Regions from separate parts of the Homo sapiens genome. Here all the other regions are linked to region 1. Evidence: fine-mapped expression QTL. A gene starts in region 1. Each other region holds a variant in brackets. All regions are shown on one strand. Distances are from middle to middle.

What was found. PIP is the estimated chance that this variant, and not a neighbour inherited with it, causes the effect.
Region 2: its variant is fine-mapped to the expression of PPP2R5E in blood mononuclear cells (TOPMed, PIP 0.96). The same link has a PIP of 0.9 or more in lung.
Region 3: its variant is fine-mapped to the expression of PPP2R5E in esophagus mucosa (GTEx, PIP above 0.99). The same link has a PIP of 0.9 or more in unexposed skin.

The regions. Positions count from the first base shown.
Region 1 is chr14:63,538,274-63,546,460 of GRCh38, forward strand. PPP2R5E (protein phosphatase 2 regulatory subunit B'epsilon) reads right to left here and starts at 5,104. Exons shown (of 14, transcript NM_006246.5): 1 at 4,506-5,104; 2 at 1,256-1,419. The coding sequence starts at 1,412. LOC112268140 (loricrin-like) reads left to right here and starts at 4,511. Exons shown (of 1, transcript NR_158218.1): 1 at 4,511-6,391. RefSeq lists silencers at 4,600-4,739, 4,780-4,919 and enhancers at 5,156-6,147, 5,210-5,419, 6,507-6,586.
Region 2 is chr14:63,376,738-63,384,924 of GRCh38, forward strand. PPP2R5E (protein phosphatase 2 regulatory subunit B'epsilon) reads right to left here. Exons shown (of 14, transcript NM_006246.5): 12 at 7,707-7,834; 13 at 5,319-5,420. Among named protein-coding and RNA genes, the nearest start is that of GPHB5, 62 kb to the left of the region's middle. The variant TAATA/T (reference allele first, on the strand shown) is at 4,846.
Region 3 is chr14:63,496,711-63,504,897 of GRCh38, forward strand. All of the region lies in intron 2 of PPP2R5E (protein phosphatase 2 regulatory subunit B'epsilon), which reads right to left. Among named protein-coding and RNA genes, the nearest start is that of PPP2R5E, 43 kb to the right of the region's middle. The variant A/G (reference allele first, on the strand shown) is at 3,207.

The sequences.
Region 1 (8,187 bases):
CCCCCGAGACAGAGTCTTGCTCTGTCACCCAGGCTAGAATGCAATGGCACGATCTGGGCTCACTTCAACCTCTGCCTCCCGGTTCAAGCAATTCTCCTGCCTCGGCTTCCCGAGTAGCTGGGATTACAGGTGCCACCACCGCGCCTAATTTTTGTATTTTTAGAAGAGACAGGGTTTCACCATGTTGGCCAGGCTGGTCTCAAACTCCTGACCTCGTGATCTGCCTGCCTCGGGCTCCCAAAGTGCTGGGATTACAGGCGTGAGCCACCACGCCCGGCCTCAACCTGCACTTTCACTCTGTCCCCACTGAACTCTAGCCAGAGTGACAGCATGAGATTGTCTCAAAAGAAAATTTAAAAAACCAAAAAACTTGTTTTTAACAAATTTCAGGCCAGGCACGGTGGCTCACACCTGTAATCCCAGCACTTTGGGAGGTCAAGGTGGGCAGATCACTTGGGGTCAGGAGTTCAAGACCAGCCTGACCAACATGGTGAAACCCTGTCTCTATTAAAAATACAAAAATTAGCTGGGCATGGTGGCGGGCACCTGTGCTCCCAGCTACTCGGGAAGCTGAGGCAGGAAAATCACTTGAACCCAGGAGGTGGAGGTTGCTGTGAACCAGCCTGAGCAACAGAGGGAGACTCTATCTCAAAAGATAAAAATTAAAATTAAAAAATTAACAAATTTCAAAGAAAAGATCATACTAAACAAGTATGATCATCATACTTGTACATAGAAAGGTATATCTTTTCTACTTGTACTATGTGAAAACAAGAGTGCATGTAAACAACTATAAATGGACCATTTTTTTCTTGATTTTTAAAAACGAATTCTTCCAAATACCATTTTCTATATGTAAATTAATGAATGGTACCATCTCCTCTACTAGGGTCTACTTCCTAAGACCATAATCTGTAGTTGTCATTGTATATAATGTATCCCTAAACGTCAACAGAAGAAAAAATGAAAAACACAAACCCAGACATCTTAAAGTTTCTCTAGTACTTAGTTTACCTACTCATCAATGTGAGATATTCTCCTGATAATGTTTCTTTTAACTTGCCCAAAGACAGACTAAATTGAGCCTTTAAAAAGGAGAGTGGGTATATTTGGTCACACATTAGTAACTTCAATGTATGTGAAGTATCCCATCCCTTCAATTTGCAACACATATAAAACTCTACAAAAAGGAAATTATATATAGATGTAGAAAGATCAATTGAAAAAGAATGCATCACCTGGTCATGAGCCTTACCTTTTAGCAGCGGCAGAGGTGTTAACTCAATAGGCTTGCCTTGAGACCTAAACTGTGAGGAACTTTGCGACCTCTTCTGTCTGGCTTTTCTGACGGACTTCCGAGAAAATCCGTCTACTTTATCCACTGATGGAGGAGTAGTTGGTGCTGAGGACATATCCCTACTGAAGAGAAAGAAGTATCATAAACCCATACATTCCCAAGGTGGAAGCATACATGTGAGTTATACAAATTCTAAAATTCCCATATACAATATTCATGAAAATGGGAATATGTGCTAAAGAAAATAAAATCAGTTAAGAAAAGTCTTATCTTGGCCAGGTGCAATGGCTCACGCCTGTAATCCCAGCACTTTGGGAGGCTGAGATGGGTGGATCACTTGAGGTCAGGAGTTCAAGACCAACCTGGACAACATGGTGAAATTCAGTCTCTACAAAATTACAAAAATTAGCCGGGCATGATGGCAGGTGCTTGTAATCTCAGCTACCCGGGAGGCTGAGGTGAAAGAATCGCTTGAACCTGGGAGGTGGAGGTTGCAGTGGGCCAGGATCCCGCCATTGCACTCCATCCAGCCTGAGTGACAGAGTGAGATTCCGTCCTTTAAAAAAAAAAAAAAAAAGGGCTGGGCCCGGTGGCTCACACCTGTAATCCCAGCACTTTGGGAGGCCGAGGTGGGTGGATCACTTGAGGTCAGGAGTTCGAGACTAGCCTGGCCAACATGGTGAAACCCTGTGTCTACTAAAAATACAAAAATTAGCCAGGCGCAGTGGCATGCACCTGTAATCTCAGCTACTCAAGAGGCTGAGAAGGGAGAACCGCTTGAACCTGGGAGGCGGAGGTTGCGGTGAGCCAAGATGGCACCACTGCACTCCAGCCTGGGCAACAGAGCAAGAGTCCATCTCAAAAAAAAAAAAAAAAAAAGCCAGGCACAGTGGCACACACCCGTAATCCCAAGGCGGGCAGATAACTTCAGGTTGGGAGTTCGAGACCAGCCTGACCAACATGGAGAAACCCCATCTCTAATAAAAAAAAAAAAATACAAAAATTAGCCAGGCATGGTGGCGCATGCCTGTAATCCCAGCTACTCGGGAGGCTGAGGCAGGAGAATCACTTGAACCCGGGAGGCGGAGTTGTGGTGAGCCAAGATCATGCCATTGCACTCCAGCCTGGGCAGCAAGAGGAAAACTCCTTCTCAAAAAAAAAAAAAAGAAACAAACAAAGAAAAGAAAAGTCATATGTTAACAGGAAAACATGAAAATTTAGTGAAAATAATTTAAGTATCACGGAAACAATATGAGAACTCTAATGTATTGTGCCACTCCATTATAAGCATTAAAGATACTCATCTAGGCTTAAAGAAATCTATGCTGCCTGCCCATTTTCTAACTGCAAAGCTCTTCACATCTTCAAGTAATTTTTGGAGCTATTCTGTAACTGGAAAACTTCCATTGATACATTTTCCCAAGATACTTAATATTATGAATGGGTTCTGGAGTTGAAAAACCCTTAGTGTACTTCAAGAATCTATACCAATGTATCACAGCAAGGTGAAATTTACTACTACTGAAACTATCTAGGCATAACTTTTAATGGGATGTGCTATGTTAGCTATGATAAACTATACCACACTGCAAATGAGGACAGGCTAGATTACTTTAAACAAAACACATAAAAGGCATAATTAAAATATTTCAAATAAGTCTTCTTTTTGAATGAAGCCACCTTACGTTATTAACGCTTAATAAAAACTATGAGAAAATCAAGCACCAAAGTTGAACTGAAAACATAAATTCACAGCCTACTGAAACAACCAAGTTGAGTTCCCTTGAGGTTTAGACCTTGAAGTTCATCATCAAATACCAATTTTCATTCCATCAAACTTACGGAACTGAATAGCACTTTTGAATTGTTTAACCCTCTCGAGTTATTAAAATGAAGGCTATTTCCTGAAAGTAACAAGCGTTAAGCTTAATTTCATTCACCAAATTAAACAGATGCCATCATTTCCATGGCACTGAGGCTTCATGCAAGACTAATGGCAGACTCGGATAGAAAGAATGCATATGGGGGAAATGCTGAAATGCAATTACTCACCTGTCATTCCAATAGACAAGACAAGTGGTTTTTAACTTCTAAATAAAACAGTAAGGGAATTTCTTCCTGAACACGTGAGAATAAAAAGTTACCTGGATTACGTGGATTTTGACAATGTAAAAATAACAAAAACATTTTAAAACACATGCACACATATGATGTTGACGTTTGGAATTTGGAAGTCTTCTTTGGTTTTCTTTAAAAAAAAAAAAGTTTTTAAAAATCTACCTAATTTAGCCTTAATATAATGTGATGGATTCAAAATAGAATCACAAACTATGAATGACTATAGATGTTAAGATCACTTTAAAATATCAAAATGACTGCATCAGCCAAAAGCTCCACATCTTATTTGTACGTTGTAAATTTAGGGGCCGATTTTCCATTCGGGTATGTGAATTATTTAGACTTCACTCTAACTCTAACACTACAACATTTCAGTAAATCCTCTTCCTCCATCACTCTTTTCGTCTCTTCTTTATTCCTTATCTCTCATCTCTACAGACGATATATAGGTAGCTTTTAAAAAAATCATTTACCCCTTATGCCCGAGGCCCAGAATAAACGTCAAGGATCGCAACCCTGAAGCACTGCAAAACTGAACGTAAGGTAACAGCGGGTCCGTGCAAAGCCCAGGGAAACAGGTTTCGCCCTGGGCCAGGGCTCCCGAAGCTTTATCATCCTCTAATCAGCAGGCATGGGGCATTTCCATGGCTCAGGATAATCCAAAGGGGGTAAGGGGAAGTAGGGAAAGACAGGGAAGGGGTTTGTCTGTGGGGATGCTTACATACTCCCTTTGCTCCTAACCCACACCCCAAGCCCTGGAGACGATAAGCTGCTAGAGAATCCTCCTCACACCAAACCCCTCTTTATTCCCCGCCCCCGCCAGTGGATAAAGGGGGGCAAGAAAACGCCTCCAATCCCAGAAGGTGGAGAAAAAGGGGGGAGGGGGCAGAGTGAATGAGAGGTATCATCAGAAGCATTTGTAGGTAAATCAGACAAGTGGGACGGGCGCTCCCGCTCCCGCACCCCACCCCACCGCACCCCTCGCCTGCCCGGCCAGGCCTTCCCAAGGCCGGTGCCCCATAGGTTCCCCAGGAGGACCGGGAGGAAGAAGGGAAGCGGGCGAGCCGCGGTGCTGGAGGGACTAAGTTACCTTGAAGCTTCTGGGGAAGAATCCAAAGATGATCTGTGGCTTGGAGGGGCGGGAGACGGGCGAGGTGGCCGCAGCGGGGGCGGGCGGCGGGACCGGGACGTGCAGGGGGAGGTCCGGGCAGCTGCGGGGAGCCTGGGGCGACGGCTGTCCGGTACGGGGTCCCTCCGGTTCCGCGGCGGCGGAGCCTCTAGGCCTCACGGCCGGACCCGAACCTCAGCGTTCCGGTGGCGGCGGCGGCCTCACGATCCTCCCCCGCGGGCCCGTCCCATCAAATCGGCACCGACCCCGTTGCGGCTCCGCCGGTGGCTCCTCGCTCACATTCCTGGCGGGCGGCGCCTCAGCTCGTTGCCCCGGACCCGGCGGCGGCGGCGACGACGTGGGGAGGGGGGGAAGGGAGGGAGGAAGACTGGATCTGCAGCGGCAGCAAGAGAAGGGGACAGAATAAGGAGGAGGAGCCGCAGGAGCTGGAGCCGCCGCTGCCAGAGCCACCTTTCGCTACCCGCGGTGGGTCCCAGTCAATGCCCCTTTCTCTCTCCTATTGTCAATATCACCGGGCGGCTGAGTCCATGGCACACGCGCAACCGAACCTTCTGGCCAGCAGCGCCCGCCTCCGGCGCCCGCCCACTGGAGACTTCAAACGGGAAGCGAGGCCTCATTGGCCAGTATCCGCCTTCACTCCCCTGACAGCATGTTCGGCTGAGACCTGATCAGGGATTGGCGGCAGGAGGGCGGAGAAACGGGAGGGTGGGAAGAGAGAAGGTCGAGGATTGGGCCGAAGCTTGAGGAACCCGGATGCAGCCGCGATCTCGGGCGGTGCAGCCGCCGCTTCCGCCCGGCAGTGGGGCAAGCTGAAGTGAGAAGCCGCTGGGCCTGAGAGGAGCTCTTTAATTCCGGGAGGTGTGCGACTAGCGGATCAGCGGGCTGGCTTTCCGTGCTGTGCGGAGCCTTTGGGCGGCGGTCGTCTTGGACCGGAGGATTCCAAGGGCTCGGGTCGTCTAAGGGTCGGGGAGCCCCGGAGACTTGATCCCGCCCTGCAGCTAGTGTGGCCCCTCAGGGTTTGGGGAGTCCCACTCTGGACGGGACCCTGTGATGCGTAGGCAGGAATAAGATCCCCCGCCCGTGCCGGTGTGCCACTGCTTGTGTAAATGGGCCCCTTGAAACCCCCAGCAGTCGCTCTCCGCTGAACCTTCTTCGAATTTTCTCTCACCTCATCTCCTTTTCCTTAAACGTCTGTTTTGAATATCAGACCCCTGTAGCGTTGAAGCCAGCGCTCGTTTAATTAATGCAGGTGGGAACGCTGTCGCCACAGTTTGCAGTCTATTCATTCAGAATAACCCGCCAGTCAGCCGACTGCTCAGAGCTCGGAAAGACCCAGCTCCAAACTAGGAGTTTCGAGATTTTAATTGGCAAGTTGGACCCGAAAGAGTTAATGGAGAAGACTACTTAAATCTATCTAGAACAAGTGATGAGATATTTGGAGATGTGTTTGCATGCTTGGTGAATGCAGACGGCCAAATGGTACATTTCCAGATAATATTCTTGGATTAATGTATTTGAATGCACCCTACGTACATTTTTTGAGAGGAAAAAAGGAAGAAAGAAATTATTAATGCTAACTACAAACGTCAGAGTACCAGTTGTTCAAAACTTAGAAATTGGGGGGGGGGACAAAAAAATTAACATTCTTATTTTCTCAACTCAGAGATAACCACTTACAGTATTTGCATACTTCCTTTTAGTATTTTTTCTCTTTATGTTAATAATGTGTGTCGATCTGTAGCCTAGTTTTTTCCCTCAGCATTATATCATCTTTTCGATACGGTTAGGGAATAGAGCTATATATAAATAAAACTATATGTACCATATGTACAAGTGACAACGAAAAATGCATTTGCATTTCTCCTGTTTGTGTTGTTAAACACTAGAGTTTTGAAATTTTCTTTGCACACTCCCAGAAATGGCTCTTGAGTGGAAAAATAATTTTGTGCCATGAAAGATAAAAATATTCCTGCTTTGAACTGAAATGGAAAACGAAAAGATGACTCTTAGATGGAAGCAGTCTCCCCCTACTGACTCCAGATGATTGGCCACTGTATGGCTAGTGCCCACTTTTGCCGTGATAAAGTTCATCACCACTAAGTATGAACTATAGAATACCAGCAGTCTAGTTCCTACCCTCAAGAACCTTAAATTTTCCATATCTCAATATCCTGTACAGTCTTCATGAAAGTTCAGTGTCCCAGCCAAGGACCTGTTTTCTTCAATCTTTGATTGAGGGTAAATTCAGAATTAAAACCAAGGAAGATTTTGAAGCCAATTCAATTTCCCTTGGCAACAGTTGAACTGTTAAAAGCATAGTGCACGTTTGAAATTCTCACAGCTGTTGCTTAGAACATGTCATAGAGTGGGGATTTTGCTTGCAAATTATGGATCTCTATAAAGACAATTCATTTCAAAGTCATTTCACTTTCTATAAAATGGCTGAGCAACTGAAATGAGCAGGTTTTTTAAAATGGAAACATCCTTGCCTATGTGAGAAATTGTTCTCTGGACCAGTAATTTCTCCCATGTATCCCAGGGATTTCGGTACTCCAAGAATAGTGCAAGACAATCTATTTCGGATGCAGTAAAAGAAAGTATTAGGAAATATATTTACATTTAATTTTAATCTAAAAGGCATTACGGTCAACTACTATTTTATATAGAGTGAATGGCTCTGCCCTCAGTCCATGGAATGGTGCCTTGGCCTAGAACAGCATAGGAGATGTCCTCAGGGAAAAGTGGGAGTTACCCATTCCTAGGGGTTGGCAGTGGTGGGCCCACCCAATCAGCCCCTGACAACATATGACTTATTGCGGTTTCTTATTGCAGTTTCTGGATTCAACTAAGTGGACTTACTGATTATATTATCTAAGTTTAATTAAACTAACCCTCATAAAACAGACAAATGACTCTATGAGTCCTTTGCAAATAAACCACGGGAGAACAAGAAGAAAATGTTAGAACTGACTCTTCAGTATCAAATCTTTTTTTTCTTTTTTTTTTTTTTTTTTTGGTATTTTTAGTAGAGACGGGGTTTCACCATGTTGGCCAGGCTGTTCTCAAACTCCTGACCTTGTGATCCACCCGCCTCGGTCTCCCAAAGTGCTGGGATTACAGGCATGAGCCACCACACCCAGCCCAGTATCAAATCTTTGACAGCCACTTTTCAAAAGTAAAATACCAATCTAATAAATTCAATCAAATTTTGACTAGAAAAAAAATCAAGGCTACTTGAAATGTAAATTTACATCCACTGTTGTTGTTGTTGTTGTTGTTGTTGTTGTTGTTGTTGTTGTTGTTGTTGTTTGAGATGGAGTCTCGCTTTGTCGCCCAGGCTGGAGTACAGTGGCGCAAACGACTCACTGCAACCTTCACCTCCCGGGTTCAAGCAATCCTTCTGCCTCAGCCTCCCAAGTAGCTGGGATTACAGGCATGTACACCTGGCTAATTTTTGTATTTTAAGTAGAGACGGGGTTTCACCATGTTGGCCAGGCTGGTCTCGAACTCCTGACCTCAAATGATCCACCCCACTCGACCCCCCAAAGTGCTGGGATTACAGGCGTGAGCCACTGCACCCAGCCTACATCCACTGTTATTAAGAATTGAACTTCATTCTAAGTGTATATGTTGATTGAGTTAA
Region 2 (8,187 bases), 160 kb before region 1:
TTTTTAACATCAACCAAGTAGGAAGTACATGATGCAGGAATATAAGACTATATTGTAAGTTATATAAATTCACATTTACTAAAAATAATTCACTACACTGTCTCTGGTTTTTTTCCATGTTGCAGCGAACCAATAAAAAGCAGACCCAGGCTGGGCGCAGTGGCTCACGCCTGTAATCCTAGCACTTTGGGAGGCCGAGGCGGGTGGATCATCAGTGAGACCCCGTCTCTACTAAAAATACAAAAATTAGCCGGGCATGGTGGCGTATGCCTAGAGTCCCAGCTACTTGGGAGGCTGAGTCAGGAGAATCGCTTGAACCCGGGGGGCGGAGATTGTGGTGGACGGAGATTGCAGCGAGCCGAGATCACACCACTGCACTCCAGTCTGGGGGACAGAGCAAGACTCCGTCTCCAAAAAAAAATAAAAAAAAAAAAATGCTGATCCAGATTAACATTCATAAATCCAGGAATTCAGATAATTCCTGAAAATGGGGGCTCCACCATCTCAGGCATGGGGATGTAATCCATGCACTACCCCACTTAGCAAGGATTAAAACTTCAGCCACAGTACAATTTCTACGCAGGGAAATCCACATGGGTTGAGTGAAATTTGTATGTAATTCCAATGCCTCATTTTTTTTAAAACATTATAACCAATGTTTTTTAAAAGTTATATTAATATCTAGAGCAATAGAGATTAATCTTCATCCCCTCCAACTCCCAAAAAACTCAAGAAAAACCTAAGTAATTTTATATTCTTATTCCACTAGAGACTTGAGGAAATGTTGAATTATAATGCCATAATAGTCTGGTATTAACCAGAAATGTTTAAGACCATATGGGAGCACAAACCAGTGGAACTCTTTACAATAAATGTTTATGGCTTAGTAAAGCCATATGGTAATTAATATCATGATCTAATAGGTAATATTTTCATAACTTAGGCCTTGTTTACCATAATTAGTTTCAGCTATCTCAAATACAAATCTGCACAATATAAATTTCAGTAAGCAGACTAGTTTTCATAAAATTACCTATTTGTTAATTTTGACCCTGAAAAAATTGCACTTATAGGACAATAAGGGCAAGATTAGATAATCCTCCAATCTTCTTCTGGCTTTTTTGTTTTTGCTTTTGTTCTTTTCTTAGAGTCAGGGTCTCATTCTGTTGCTCAGGCTAAAGTGCAGTGGCACAATCATAGCTCACTGTAGCCTCAATCACCTGGGCTCAAGCAATCCTCTTGCCTCAGCCTCCTGAGTGGCTGGGACTACAGGTGTGCACCACCACTCCTGGTGCATTCCAGATTCTAAACATAATCAAGCTGTTTGACAAATTATCACTTTTTGTTTCTCAGTACAGTCTGGGAATAATTATGAGGTCTAAATCAATGTTAGCAAAAAACACAATTTGGGTATATATAAATCAATTGTATAGATCCTGCTGACTTTCGATGAATATGACCTTTTTATTTGGAGAGATAAGGGGATGGTAAGCAAGGGCTTGGAATTTTACTCAACTAAAAAACATTTCAATGTATTTCAGGTTCACATTGCCCTAATTTGCAGTTTTAACCCATTTATGCCAGAGGTTGTAAAACTTTCTTGTGAAAAATCAGACCTTGACGATGACCTTGAGCAGTGGGATAGAAATAACTCCCACAAGCTTAGCGTTCCAATAATGGAACACTAGGCATAAATTGGTTAATTAAGTGTTGACATCATTAAAACATTCATCATCTTGTTACTAAAGTGTTTCATGTTTTTGATCAAATATGGCACTCAATGCAATTTATCCTGTTGGGCTTTTCCTCCAACTGAGCATTATGCTCAGTTATCACACGGCTTTCATACTGACAACTCTATCTTTAAAAATCCTAAATATTGCTGACACAGTTATTGTCACCCCCAATCTTTCCCACTTTTCTCTCTCCCTGTAGGTGGAAATTTTAACGCTTAACCACACTGTCATGCAGGGGATATTGTCAAATTCTCTTCTAATTTCAATTTTACATAGCACTAATGTTGGCATATGTATCTAACAGTGTTAAGTACTTATTCCACCCACCATTTTCAGATTTGTAATACTTCAAAATTTGATCTGAACTGAAACCATTAACTTCTTGCCATCCTGAAGTAAAATTGTCCATTCAGTTATTCTCTGACAGTACCAACTAAATTTCTTCATTCCCTTGTCCTATTCCCACACCTATGGAGAAACCAATGTTTCCATCTGTCAGTACACCCTTCTATTGCTCATTTGACAAATTATTATTCTTGCTTTTAAAAACCCATTTTCTTTTTTTTTTTTTTCGAGACGGAGTCTCGCTCTGTCGCCCAGGCTGGAGTGCAGTGGTGTAATCTCGGCTCACTGCAAGCTCTGCCTCCTGGGTTCACGCCATTCTCCTGCCTCACCCTCCCGAGTAGCTGGGACTACAGGCACCCGCCACCACGCCCTGCTAATTTTTTGTAGTTTTAGTAGAGACGGGGTTTCACCATGTTAGCCAGGATGGTCTCGATCTCCTAACCTCGTGATCCGCCCGCCTCGGCCTCCCAAAGAGCTGGGATTCCTCTTGTTGCCCAGGCTGGAGTACAATGATGCAATCTCTGCTCATGGCAACCTCCCCTTCCCGGGTTCAAGTGATTCTCCTGCCTCAGCCTCCTGAGTAGCTGGGATTACAGGCATGTGCCTCCACGCCCGGCTAATTTTGTATTTTTTAGTAGAGATGGAGTTTCTCCATGTTGGTCAGGCTGGTCGCAAATTCCCAACCTCAGGTGATCCGCCTGCCTTGGCCTCCCAAAGTGCTGCGATTACAGGCGTGAGCCACTACGCCTGGCCCCCATTTTCTCATTAAGAAAGTACACTCATTATAAATAACTGTAATATGCCAGAATATCATAATCAACCTCAACCAGGAATAGATAAAATAATAGTTTTATCTATTCCTGGTCCCCTTAGTTAATTCTCATCTTTTTCAAGGGTTTAGTCTATTTAGTTTAGATAATAACCAGAAAATAGTTTTATTATTGAAGTTCACTAAATACAAACCAAATAATTTGAGTGGAAATAAGTTGTTCTTCAATATTCTCTCTCTTTTTTTTTTTTTTTTTTTTTTTTTTGAGACAGAGTCTCACTCCAATGTCCAAGCTGGAGTACAGTGGCATGATCTTAGCTCACTGCAACCTCCACCTCCCGGGTTCAACTGACCCTCCCAACTCAGTCTCCCTAGTAGCTGGGACCACAAGCGCATGCCACCGTGCCTGGCTAATTTTCATACTTTTAGTAGAGACAGGGTTTCACCATTCGGCCAGGATGGTCTCGAACTCCTGACCTCAGATGACCCGCCCGCCTCAGCCTCCCAAAGTGATGGGATTACAGGCGTGAGCTACCGTGCCCAGCCAAGTTCTTCAATATTCTTGATGAGATTCTACGGATTTAATCCTGGTTCAACTAGGATAATAATAATGTGCTTTCAGAGAAGATGTTATGCACAAAGCACCTTTAACGATGCAACACAGTATTAAAATGTACCCTTGGCCGTTTTTTTAAGTAACATCCTTTAAAGATTTTAAGTTTGGGGCAAGGAGGGTTATCATAAATTTATAATTTGCAACAATCGCTAATATACTGAATTAAAAGTTGTTTAGGGCTGGGCGCGGTGGCTTACGCCTGTAATCCCAGCACTTTGGGAGGCCGAGGCAGGTGGATCATGAGGTCAGGAGATCGAGACCATCCTGACTAGCACAGTGAAACCCTGTCTCTAGTAAAAATACAAAAAATTAGCCAGGCGTGGTGGCGGGTGCTTGTAGTCCCAGCTACTTAGGAGGCTGAGGCAGGAGAATGGCATGAACCTGGGAGGCGGAGCTTGCAGTGAGCTGAGATCGCGCCACTGCACTCCAGCCTGGGCAACAGAGCAAGACTCCATCTCAAAAAACAAAAAAAAAAAAGTTGTTTAAACTGTGAGTATGGAATAACATATCCCATAATTGATAATAATCCCAATATTCTGGGTAAAAAATCCCAGCCTCTTCTGAGATTCTCAGCTAAATACTCACCACATTCCATAATTAAGTTGGTTTTCATAAACCACATCCCTGGTAACTTAAAACAAAAAAATCATTGCAATGGTCCCTCTGCCATCAAACCTTTCCCCTCATTGCTCTTTTTATCAATAAAATGCAAGTTGACAGACTAAAAATGAGACAAAGCAAAGCACCAAGGGAACCAGAGAGGTTCAGCAAGACCCTGGGTATGAACACTCGCACACATCTCTGGGTCCTCTAAGGTCCATAGCTTTATGATATACAAAGCTGACATCTGCTTATGGATGATCAAAGCCAAACCACAGGCGCAACTACTAAGAGCTCTCTAGACTTCTATAATCTCCCCAAGTACATCTTTTGGAAAGTAGAATGCATTGGACAAGATTTTTACTAAGCCATAAGCATTTATTGCAAAGAGTTCCACTGGTTTGTTCTCCCATATGGTCTCAAACATTTCTGGTTAATACCAGACTATTAACCTTCATGTTCTTTTCACTGATCTTTAAATTGTAATAAATTTGTTGGGTTCTAGTAAGTCCTGGGCCCAAGAGCTAGATAAATGGTGCCTCATTCCCCCTGCTATTGGAGTGAAGTACAAGATCTGCCCAATTATACTTCAAGTAAGTTCAGAGTGGGAGTGAATCCCAGAGAGCAAACTACCTGATGGTCCCTTTAAGTGAACCTAAAATACCAGTTAAATGCTGGGCTCTTAACCCTGAGGCAGAAGTGAAATATTATTAAAGAAAGGAAAGAAAGCGGGCTTTATCAAAATGAGTGTCAGGAAGCTTTGTTACTCAGTGGCACAG[TAATA/T]AATAAATAAAGACACAGTTAATAAGTGTGCAAAAATGAATATATAAATACAGTCATGTGCCAAATAACAACATTTCGGTCAACACAGACCACATATACCACGGTGGTCCCATAAAATTTTAACAGGGTTGAAAAAGGCCTACTGCCTAGTGATTTGTGTTACAATTGGCTACGGTATTCACCACAGGTTTGTAGCCTGGGAAGAACAGGCAATACTACATAGTTCAGGTGTGTCATAGTAGGCTACACCATCTAGGTTTGTGTAATTACTGTATACTTATGATGTTCACACAATACAATTGCCTAAGGATGCATTTCTCAGAACATATACTGGTTGTTAAGTAATGCATGACTGTAAACAAAATTGTGCTGCTTAAGATTTGGGGTACAATTAGGCAACTTCAGCAAAGAGCAAGGAAAAAACTCAATAGCTTTATGCACAGCTGACAAAAAAGCTTTAAAAAGTTACCGCTGACGATCTGACTTGTATGTGGCTGTCAGCTCGTCAAACATGGTGCTGTTCATTTCCATAAATGCCTTCAACACATTGTACACCAACGCCACAATAGCCCTGGAAAGCACAGAAAAAAAGGAGTGTGTTAGTTAGTCTTATAAAATGGGATACTGAATGAAGAAAGCAAAAGCACAACTTTTGTCTGAATGATTTCTCGTACTGCACACTGTCTGTATCCTTTTTTAGTTGGAACAACTGAAAATGACCTACAGTTCATTTCCACATCAAGAGATTTCAAGGCAAGATAATTTTCTGAGGGGTGGTAGAACTAGAAAAAAAATCTAACTTTGCCCTTCTAATTTCTTTTTTTTTTTTTTTGCAACGGAGTTTCGCTCTTGTTGCCCAGGCTGGAGTGCAATGGCACCATCTTGGCTCACCGCAACCTCCGCCTCTTGGGTTCAAGCAATTCTCCTGCCTCAGTCTCCTGGGTAGCTGGGATTACAGAAGCGAGCCACCACACCTGGCTAATTTTGTATTTTTAGTAGAGACGAGGTTTCTCCATGTTGGTCAGGCTGGTCTCGAACTCCCAACCTCAGGTGATCTGCCTGCCTCGGCCTCCCAAAGTGCTGGGATTATAGGCGTGAGCCACCACACCTGGCCTGCCCTTCTAATTATTGGCACCCAGAATAGAGCTGCCTGTGGGCATTTGATAATTTCATTTAATAAAAAGGCAAGTATAATAGTAAAGCAATTTCACCCTAAAATAAGGATCTGTGATAGCACTAACCTTAGACATCTGAATTTGCATAGAATTCTATTTTCTAAATAACACATAATTCATCAAAATCAGAAGCTACTTCCCTAGAAACAAATGTTATATATATATGTGTATATATATAAATTATTCTTATCCAAAGAAATGAAATCAAGCCCTCATGTAGGTTGGGTGGTTCAATATGAATTATCTGTCTAGCTCTGATCTGCACCAGTCCTGCTGACCCAAAATATATGCTGATAACTGGCAAGCTGGGATGGTTGCTATTAGCTATGGGACACTATACAGCTAAACAGCCAAAATGGTAGCCCATACTTAACAAGAATTAGCTCTTGGGCAATGTGAGGACAAGGTTATGATGGGCTTGATAGCTTCAGACTAGAGTCTAAATAGCTTTTCCTTTTGCAAAAATATCCGTTGCTTCCGTTTTGCAACAAACATGCTCCTAATACCACTGAAAAATGCATTGGTAAAAATTAGCCATATATTAAATAAACCATGAGTCTGATGTTTCCAAAACATTTACAAGAAAGTACACTTGCTGTGTAGCTTCTGCCTTGTGCCATTAAAAGGAAAATTTAAGTTCTTTTCTGTTAAGGTTCCAGAATGACCTTCCTCCCAAGGGCAGTGATGGGAAAGCACCAAATGTAGTATACTGAGTAGTTACAGACACTTGCTAGAACCGTTCTCTAGGTCCTCAAGAGACTATCTGTATAAAGGGACTTAACTGTTTATCAGCTCCTTATTTTTACAAGTTCTATTAATATAATTAGGCAAATTTGAAAAATTAGAAATGTGATATTTTATAATTACATGCAAAATTTTTAAAGATAAACATATTATGAATATACTGAATTGTATCTCCCAATTTTTAAATACCACATTAAATTTTCCTTCTATTCCACAGAGAAAAATGTAAAGGCATTCAAATTCAGAATGCTTTAACTTTCATAGGGCTGGATGTTAAACTTCCCTTGATGATTTTAAACTCCTTCCTTTCCAAGAGATACATATAGCGACTGAGTTGGCTGTTAAATAGATCACACTAAAATGAAAACCTAGTCAGACCACTTCCCCACTTAACAACCCTTCAGTACTTCCTCATCATCTACTTGGTGAAGGCTCACACGAGTCCCACAGTCTTTTCTAGCCACATCCTCTAGCACCCTCCCCAAAAGACCTTGTGCCTCAGCCCTCCCAAACTCACAGGTCTCAGAAACTGACAGCTGCTTTTTACATCTTTGTGCCTTTTAACATGATGGATGGACCCACTGTCTGAAAGGGCTCTCCCCATGCCATCCACCTGCCAAATTCCTTTCAGATTCAGTCTAAGCATGGCCATGCTGTCAGTATCTACACACCTCTCCTCTCAGCTGCAGTGCCTCCCCAAAAGATCTGCTACCTTCATAGACAGATCAAGAAGCCTGTCTAGTAAACAGATACTTTAACCGGTATTTTGTTAAAGTATCTGTTTATTTTCTCCAGTCAGTGAATCCCCAGAAGGTAAGGATTTTATCTTTTCACATACGTCTTCAGCAACAAGGACAGCATCTGGCACATAATAAGGCTGAAGGGAAAGAAAGAGAGGAAGGGAGGAAGAGAACGGAGGAAAGAAACTGAAAACCTACGGATTCCAATGTTCTTTTGAAATCCTATAAAGGCTGGAAAACATGATGGGAAGGATGACGTTAGAGTTTTCTTCTATCAAACTCATGATGTATTCATTATTCCAATAATAGAGTGCTCTTTCTGCCACCTTTGGGAAAAGAAAAATAAAATGTTAAGAGAGAGAAAAAGACAAAGATAAAACAAAATTATAAATCTTTCCAAACAAAAGTATTTCAAAAGGCTATTTGTAAATCATTCAATTAGAGGTAAAATTAAATATTAATCACATTTTAATATATATATATTTTTTGAGATGGGAGTCTCGCTAGTGGCGCGATCTCGGCTCTCTGCAACCTCCGCCTCTCGGGTTCAAGCGATTCTCCTGCCTCAGCCTCCCGAGTAACTGGGATTACAGGCACATGCCACTATGCCTAGCTAATGTTTGTATTTTTAGTAGAGGCGGGGTTTCACCACATTGGCCAGGATGGTCTCGATCTCCTG
Region 3 (8,187 bases), 42 kb before region 1:
TTATTGATCTGAGTAATCAAAACTAATGGATGTGATTTTTCTTCTCCGACTTAAATCTTAAAAGAATAAGCAAAGAAGCCAAATGCCTGAAAGACTGACAGAAATAAAAATTAATAAAAATTAAAATCTCAATTCTAGATTTGGAATAACAAACTATTTTATCTGGGTACACAGTTTAAAAAAAAAAAAAGGTAGTTTTCCAAGAATTTTTCTGGTTCTAAAATACACAGGCAGAGACACACTTCAAATCAAAATGTCAGGCACTCACCATAATAGCTATGGCCTTTAAACCACCCCAGTACCCCTCCCCCTGCCCACAGCTCTAGCCAGTTTAACTGCTTTTAAATGGAACATTCTAAATTGCTAAAAATAAACTATCTCTATTTCCTCCTGCTTAAGTTTTCCCATTTTCCCATGACATTTTAACCTTTATTCAGGCAGTTATGATCACAAACATGCAATACCTATATGATACCATTTCTAACCATTTTATATACAGATGCATAAACGTATGACAGTATTTCCTTTCCCTTCAAAAAACAACATGGCAAAATAACTTGCAAGATCTCTAGCCAATTAAGAACCCTGGATCTGAAGACTGACTCCGTGGGATTTCATAAAACTTGGCTCCCCATCAAAAGGCCACAATTACTCTTTCTTGACTACAAGCATCATCTCTGGATTATCCACACCTCTTCCATCTCCAAAGATAACTAAAAAAATACAGGGTAACTAAATGAGTATAAAAACACATGAACCTGGCCAGGTGCAGTGGCTCCCCCCTGTAATTCTAGCACTTTGGGAGGCAGAGGTGGATCACCTGAGGTCAGGAGTTCGAGACCAGCCTGGTCAACATGGTGAAACCCGTCTCTACAAAAAACACAAAAATTAGCCGGACATGGTGGCACATGCCTGTAATCCCAGCTATTCAGGAGGCTGAGGCAGGAGAATCGCTTGAAACTGGGAGGCAGAGGTTGCAGTGAGCCAAGACTGTACCAGTGTGCTCCAGCCTGGGCGACAGAGGGAGACTCCATCTCAAAAAAACAAACAAACAAACAAAAAAAAACAAACACAAAAAACACATGAACCTGCTCAAGGTTTATGCAGAAAGTGGAAAGGTAAATCAATGATTAATGCAAGATGTCATACAACATCCTCCTTTAATGGCCAGAAGCATACTCACGTTAGTGGCATCACCTGGCATCACACTTCTCTACTGTTCAATATTTCTATTATAATATCAATAAATCTCATTTTCTTATTCACTTAGAATAATACATTTGGTATGTGGTGAACTTCTGGCAATAACTGAATTTAGTTCCTACAGCTTATGTCTTATTTTGAGCATGATGTCAATTCAGTCAACAAAACTAACCATCTTATCAGAAATGAACTTAATATCTCTTCTTTGTAATTTAGAGAGCTTTTTCAGGTAGTATCAACCAAGTCTTGAGGGATTTTTAAAATGTTTGTTTTTTTCTTGAGACTTAAGGTCCTAAAGACAAACAGTGTGGTTTTTATTCAGTGAAAAAGCAAAGATTGCTTAAATTCTCTAAGTTCTACTTACAAAAGAAACTACAAAATATATGCATGCTTTTAAACAAATGTATACTATCAGGTTGACCTCTCTGTCCACTTCACTAACCTCTTGACATCATTTCTTTTCTTTTCTTTTTTTCTTTTTAAGTCTACATCATGCTTTGCTTGACATGGTTTTAGAAAAGGATGTTTTTCAAGTTTTGTGTGTATGAACCTTTGGAATGTTTTTAAGTGTCTTGGATCTTCATTAATATCACTAAAGAAAATACAATAACAAAACATTTTTATGAATTCAGGAAGTACTTTTAAGTAATTTTTTTTTTTCCCAGACAGGGTCTCACTCTGTCACCCAGGCTGGAGCGAGATGGCACAAACATGGCTTACTGCAGCCGCGACTTCCCCAAGCTCAAGTAATCCTCCCACCTTGGCTTAACAAAGTGCTAGGATCACAGGCATGAACCACTGATCCAGCCTTAAATAATTCTTCATTAGTCACAAATCCCTATATACATCTGAAAACACCAGTACAAATCAGTCTGCAGATAGGGGTTCATTTGGATAATCAAATCCCTTATAACAACTTCATATACCTCTCCAGCATTCGTGGCCCAAAATTAGAAACCACTGGCAGAGACTATGAAATATAAAACTGCCTAGTTACAAGCAGAATGGCTCTTTAAAGTAAATATTAGGAATCGTAAGTGAAAATTTATTGTGTGTCAGGTACCAATGTTTTCCCACTATAAAACTGTATTTCCAAATTTAAAATCAAAATTAGTCATGAAAATCATTTATATATGCACGTTTACTTCATCACAGGCAATTTTTAAGAAATGCAGCTACTCATAAAAAGGCCCCAGGACATACTGGAACACAGAATGTGCCAGCTTCCATTTCCACCACCAAAGAGAGAAGGTTGGTTTTGGTTTGAGCTCCACTACCCAACCAGAGTATCTGTAACTAAAACCTTAATACAATTTTGAACATATCACAGGTCAGAGCTGCCTAAAAGAGAGAAAAATATATATGACAGCAGAAATGTAAAAATACAAATCATAAAATAGCCACCTCACTGTGAAACTAGAAGGGCTATGGCAGTAATAAGGATGAGAAAAAGAGCAGCAAAAACACAAATTTAGAGATTTCTCTAAATTAATCAATATTTGGTAGTATCTTGTTATTATGAGAAATAAGGCTGGGTGCAGGGGCTCACACCTGTAATCCCAGCACTTTGGGAGGCCGAGGTGGGTGGATCACCTGAAGTCAGGAGTTCGAGACCAGCCTGGCCAACACGGCAAAACCCGTCTCTACTAAAAATGCAAAAATTAGCCAGGCGTGGTGGCACTGCGTGCCTGTAATCACGGCTACTCGGGAGGCTGAAGCAGGAGAATCACTTGGACCTGGGAGGCAGAGGTTGTACTGAGCTGAGATCGCACCACTGCACTCCAGCCTGGAAGAGAGACTGGGATTCTATCTCAGAAAAAAAAAAAAAAGAAAGAAACCAAGGAATTTTTGCTCTGGATAAGCCCCAAGAGACCATCTATTCTAGTCCAGTTGTCTCATTTTACAGATGAGGAAACTGGCCCAAAGAACTTAAGTGGCTTGCTCCGGGTCATTCAGCTGACTGGTAGCAAGTCCTGATCCCAGATCTTCTGGTTCCTAGCCCA[A/G]TATCTCCAGTTTTTTGTCTGGTATTTCACAATCCCTCTGCCACATCCTAATCTGGATTTGACTCATTATTTATGCTGAAAATTATTTGGACAATGTGTAACTATTGTAAACAGGTATTTCTCAAGCTTCATTTAACTATCCTGCACATCACTCAAATTAAACCTCAGCAGTTTTCCCATCTATAGAGGGGGTGGTGATGGGTATGTTTTGGGCACTATGAATTTTTCTTATAGGAACATATTGTCTCCCCTTTGATATTGAAAGTCTATGAGAAATAAATGTGTTTTTAAAAAATTAGTTTCAAAAGCAACTTTTCTTGAAATTCACTTTAATGAAAGTAAAACTTGGTTTTCAGAAACCGACGCCCTAGATTTATTTTGACTTTAACTAAATCAGATGGGTACATCACCTCTCATTCAAATAAATACACCAAGGTGCCAAATGAAGATGCATACTTACAATGCCAAATGCTGCAGTTCTTTTTACCAGCTAAGTCTTTGTGACAGGAAATCGTTTACATTGACTAAATTCTAAACTCAGGATTTAGGACAAAATAATAAAACTGATATGAATAATTGTTACATACTTGTATGGTTAACTGGTAATGACACAGAAACAGTAAATACCAATATGGAAGACCATAAATGAACCAATTAGAAATATGACAGATCCCTGGGTGGGCACAGCGGGCTTTGGGAGGCCACGGCAAGAGGATCTCTTGAGGCCAAGAGTTTGAGACAATAGAGCAACATAGATAGGCAATATAGCAAGACTGCCGTCTCTACAAGAAAATTTTTAAAAATTGCCAGGCATGGTGGTGCATCTGTGGTCCCAACTACTCAGGAGGCTGAGGCAGGAGGATCTCTCGAGCCTGGGATTTTAAGGTGGCAGCAAGCTATGATTGCACCACTACACAATCAGCCTGGGTGACAGAGTGAGACCGCATCTCTAAAAAAAAAAAGAAAAAGAAAAACTATGACATCCTAGCGTAACAGCAGCTAAAATTTATAGAGTACAAATTGGAGCCAAGTGCTTTCCACATGTTAACTCATTTAATTCTTACAACTCTACATCTACATACTATTATTATCTCCCACTTTACAAATCAGGAGACCAAGGTAGAGACAAATTAAATGACAAGTCCACAGTCAGACACTTGTAAGAGGGAGAGCCAGGATCTGCATAGAAAATGTTAATAAGGGCCGGGCGCAGTGGCTCATGCCTGTAATCCCAGCACTTTGGGAGGCCGAGGCGGGCAGATCACCAGGTCAGGAGATCGAGACTATCCTGGCTAACACAGTGAAACTCCATCTCTACTAAAAGAAATACAAAAAAAAATTAGCCGGGCGTGGTGGCGAGCGCCTGTAGTCCCAGCTACTCAAGAGGCTGAGGCAGGAGAATGGCGTGAACCCGGGAGGCGGAGCTTGCAGTGAGCCGATACAGTGCCACTGCACTCCAGCCTGGGCGACAGAGCAAGACTCCGTCTCAAAAAAAAAAAAAAAAGAAAATGTTAATAAGATATAATGATGGTGGAAATTTTACATCAAATGTCCAGAATAGGCAAATCCAGAGATACATACATAAAGTAGATTAGTGATTAAAGTAGATTAGTGATTGCCTGCAGCTGGAGAGAGAAGGTAGCGAGAGGAATGAGGAGTGACTGCTAATGGGCACAGAATTTCATTCTGAGGTGATAAAAATGTTCTAAAAATAGATTGTGGTGATGGTTATACAACTCTGTGAACATACTAAAAACTAATGAATTGCACACTTTAGATGAGTGAACTGTATAGTACGTGAATTATGTCTCAATAAAGCTGTTAAAAAATATGGTGGTGACATATATTCAAAACGGAACCATACTCAGCAATAAAAAGTGGAAAAGACAGTTAGTTGCCAGTATTAGGGGAAGCAATCTGAGTTCTCTATTTTTGCTACTTTGTCTAAAATTATTTCCAAATAAAAATTAGAGTTTTGTTAATTTTTTATTTTTTTGAGACACGGTTTTATTCTGTCAGCCTGGCTGGAGTGCAGTGGCGAGATCTCAGCTCACTGCAGCCTCCACCTCCAAGGTTCAAGCAATTCTTCTGTCTCGGCCTCCCGAGTAGCTGGGATTATAGGCACGCACCATCACGCCCAGCTAATTTTTGTATTTTTAGTTGAGATGCGGTTTCACCATGTAGGCCAAGCTGGTCTCAAATTTCTGGCCTCAAGTGATCCACCTGCCCTGGTCTCCCAAAGTGGTGGGATTACAGATGTGAGCCACTGCACCCAGCTGGAAGTTGTTTTTTTAAATGGAACCATCTACATAGCATGAAGCAGAGGGCACCAGACTTAGAGGCAGGAGGTGCTGCCCGGCCTCCTGACACCCCTAACTTCCCTTCTCGAAGTCCTGAGGGTGACAAGATTCATCCTGCTCAACACCTCACTTGCCATGAGGACCCCACAGAAGGTGGCATAATGAAAACACTCCCACTTGCCAGGATGCAGTGGCTCACGCCTGTAATCCCAGAACTTTAGGAGGCCGAGGCAGGCAAATCATGAGGTCAGGAGTTCGACACCAGCCTGGTGAAACCCCATCTCTATTAAAAATACAAAAATTAGCCAGGCATGGTGGTGTGTGCCTCTAATCCCAGCTACTCGGGAGACTGAGGCAGGAGAATTGCTTGAACCTGGGAAGCAGAGGTTGCAGTGAGCTGAGATCATGCCACTGCACTCAAGTCTGGGTGACAGAGCAAGACTCCATCTCAAAAAAATAAAAAAGAAAAAGAAAACACTCCCACCACAATACCCAAATGCCATCTATAGGAAGGATAAATATTACCATGTTGAAATTTTATAAAATTTTATAAAAGCAAATCTACCAGTAGAAAACTATCAGAAAAAGGTGTCTGAAAGCTCATGAAATATAGTAATAGTCAATAACTAGGCCGGGTGCAATGGCTTACACTTGTAATCCCAGCACTTTGCGAGGCCAAGGCAGGAAAATCACTTGTGCCCAGGAGTTTGAGACCAGCCTGGGCAACATAGCAAGAAACCTCATCTCAGAAACAAAAATACAAAGACAGAGGACTAGCACATTAATATTATGCACTGCACAACCTCTGAAGTTGCACATGGGAACCTTGAAAGATAACCAGTAAAGCAGTGCAATATACAGGAATGGTCCAATGAGCAATACAGACCATAAATAAAAAATTACATACTATAAGAGCCAAACAGGGAAAGTTAGCCATTTTTTTTTTAACTACTGTATGTACAGAGGGATTTTGGGAAAGGCATCATCAGAGTGAGCTAGACTAGACAAAGCTTCTTGGGAAGGCCTCCTCTTGAGCTGAGCCCTAAGGAGACAGAAGACGAATTTCCATCTTAGGAGGAATGAATAGAGCAAAGGCACTGAGGCCATTGAAGAACGTGGGGTGTGGAGTGACAGGCAGGAACAGGCCTCTATGTAGAGGTTAGAAACAAGCACTATGACACTGCCAAAGCAATATCCAGTCTGCTCAAAAAGCATTTGAACCACCTGGACTGCATATCCCCCAGGTAAAAGATAGCAAATCAACAACTCCAACCAATTTCTCAGGTGATTCCTATGCCCACTGAAGTCTGAAAACAACTGTTCCAGAGCAAAGGAGGTAACATAAGGCAAGCAGTAAGGGCAAAAAACACCACATTTATATCACATGTTAACACTGCAAGGAAGACAGTTGTTTTAGATGTTCTGTTTCAATACTCCCTACTATTATCCTTCCCCAAAAGCACTTTAATTTACTATATAGTTTAATGAATTTCACATCTGAAAATCATTAATAACCTGTCTTCTCTTAGGTATACTGAAACTACCAGAATTGCATGGGGGCCTTGAAAGCCCTTATTTAAGAGGTTCCGATGGCAAGATGTGAGGAAAACCATTTGGAAAAAATCCCAATCAGTATGCCTCCCTGCCCCAAAATATGCTTTACTAAGAAGGGCAGAACCCTGGTTTTAAAAGCAAAGCAAACAAAACAAAAACTCTTTCAAGTTCTGATTAAGCATGCAGTCCCAAAATCACACGCCAGTGTCCTCTGAGTGCAAAATTTGAATACATCACTTCATTATTCAGAAATGAAATAGATTAAAAGAGCTAGGGAATATGAGAAGTTTTGAATCACTCTCTAAACTACTTCCAAATTTTTCTTCCCAATCAAGAATCAGGCACAGGTATAGATTATTTCCACCGTAACACCTGAGTAGCCACTTGCCCAAGACCTGTACGTATTGTATAGATTATAAATTTCAAAGTTCCAAATACCTCTCACATTTTCTTGGCAAGCAAAACTTTTCTTGGCAATCAAAAAAAAAGCAAAAACAAAAACAAAAAAAACCCACCCAAGAAGTCAATTGGCCAGGCACGGTGGCTCACACCTGTAATCCCAGCACTTTGGGAGGCCAAGGCAGGAGGATCACTTCAGGTCAGGAGTTCAAGACCAGCCTGGCAAACATGGCAAAACCCCATCTCTACTAAAAATACAAATATTAGCCAGGCGTGGTGGCTCACGCCTATAGTCCCAGCTACTTGGGAGGCTGAGGCAGGAAAATGGCTTGAACCTAGGAGGCGGAGGTTGCAGTGAGCTGAGATCTCACCACTGTACTCCAGCCTCGGCGACAGAGTGAGACTCCACCTCAAAAAAAGAGGAAAAAGAAGTCAATCAAGTACTGCTTGAGAAACTATTTACTCATCGTATTAGATGTTTGGGGGAATGAGATACAAAAAACAAGGCTTACAGTCTAACTGGGGAGAGAAAACCTATACCCATGAAAAGCAATGGCCTGTAGAATGCAAGTGCCTTACACGTCTTAGTCACCCTTTACCCCCAGGGCATAGCATAAAATATGTGTTCAGTAAACACTGTTAAAAAAAAAATGCTGTCTTGGTCATCTTTGTCACTCCAGCATCTAGCCAAGTTCCTAATGCAATGTTTGCTGAATGAATGAATGATA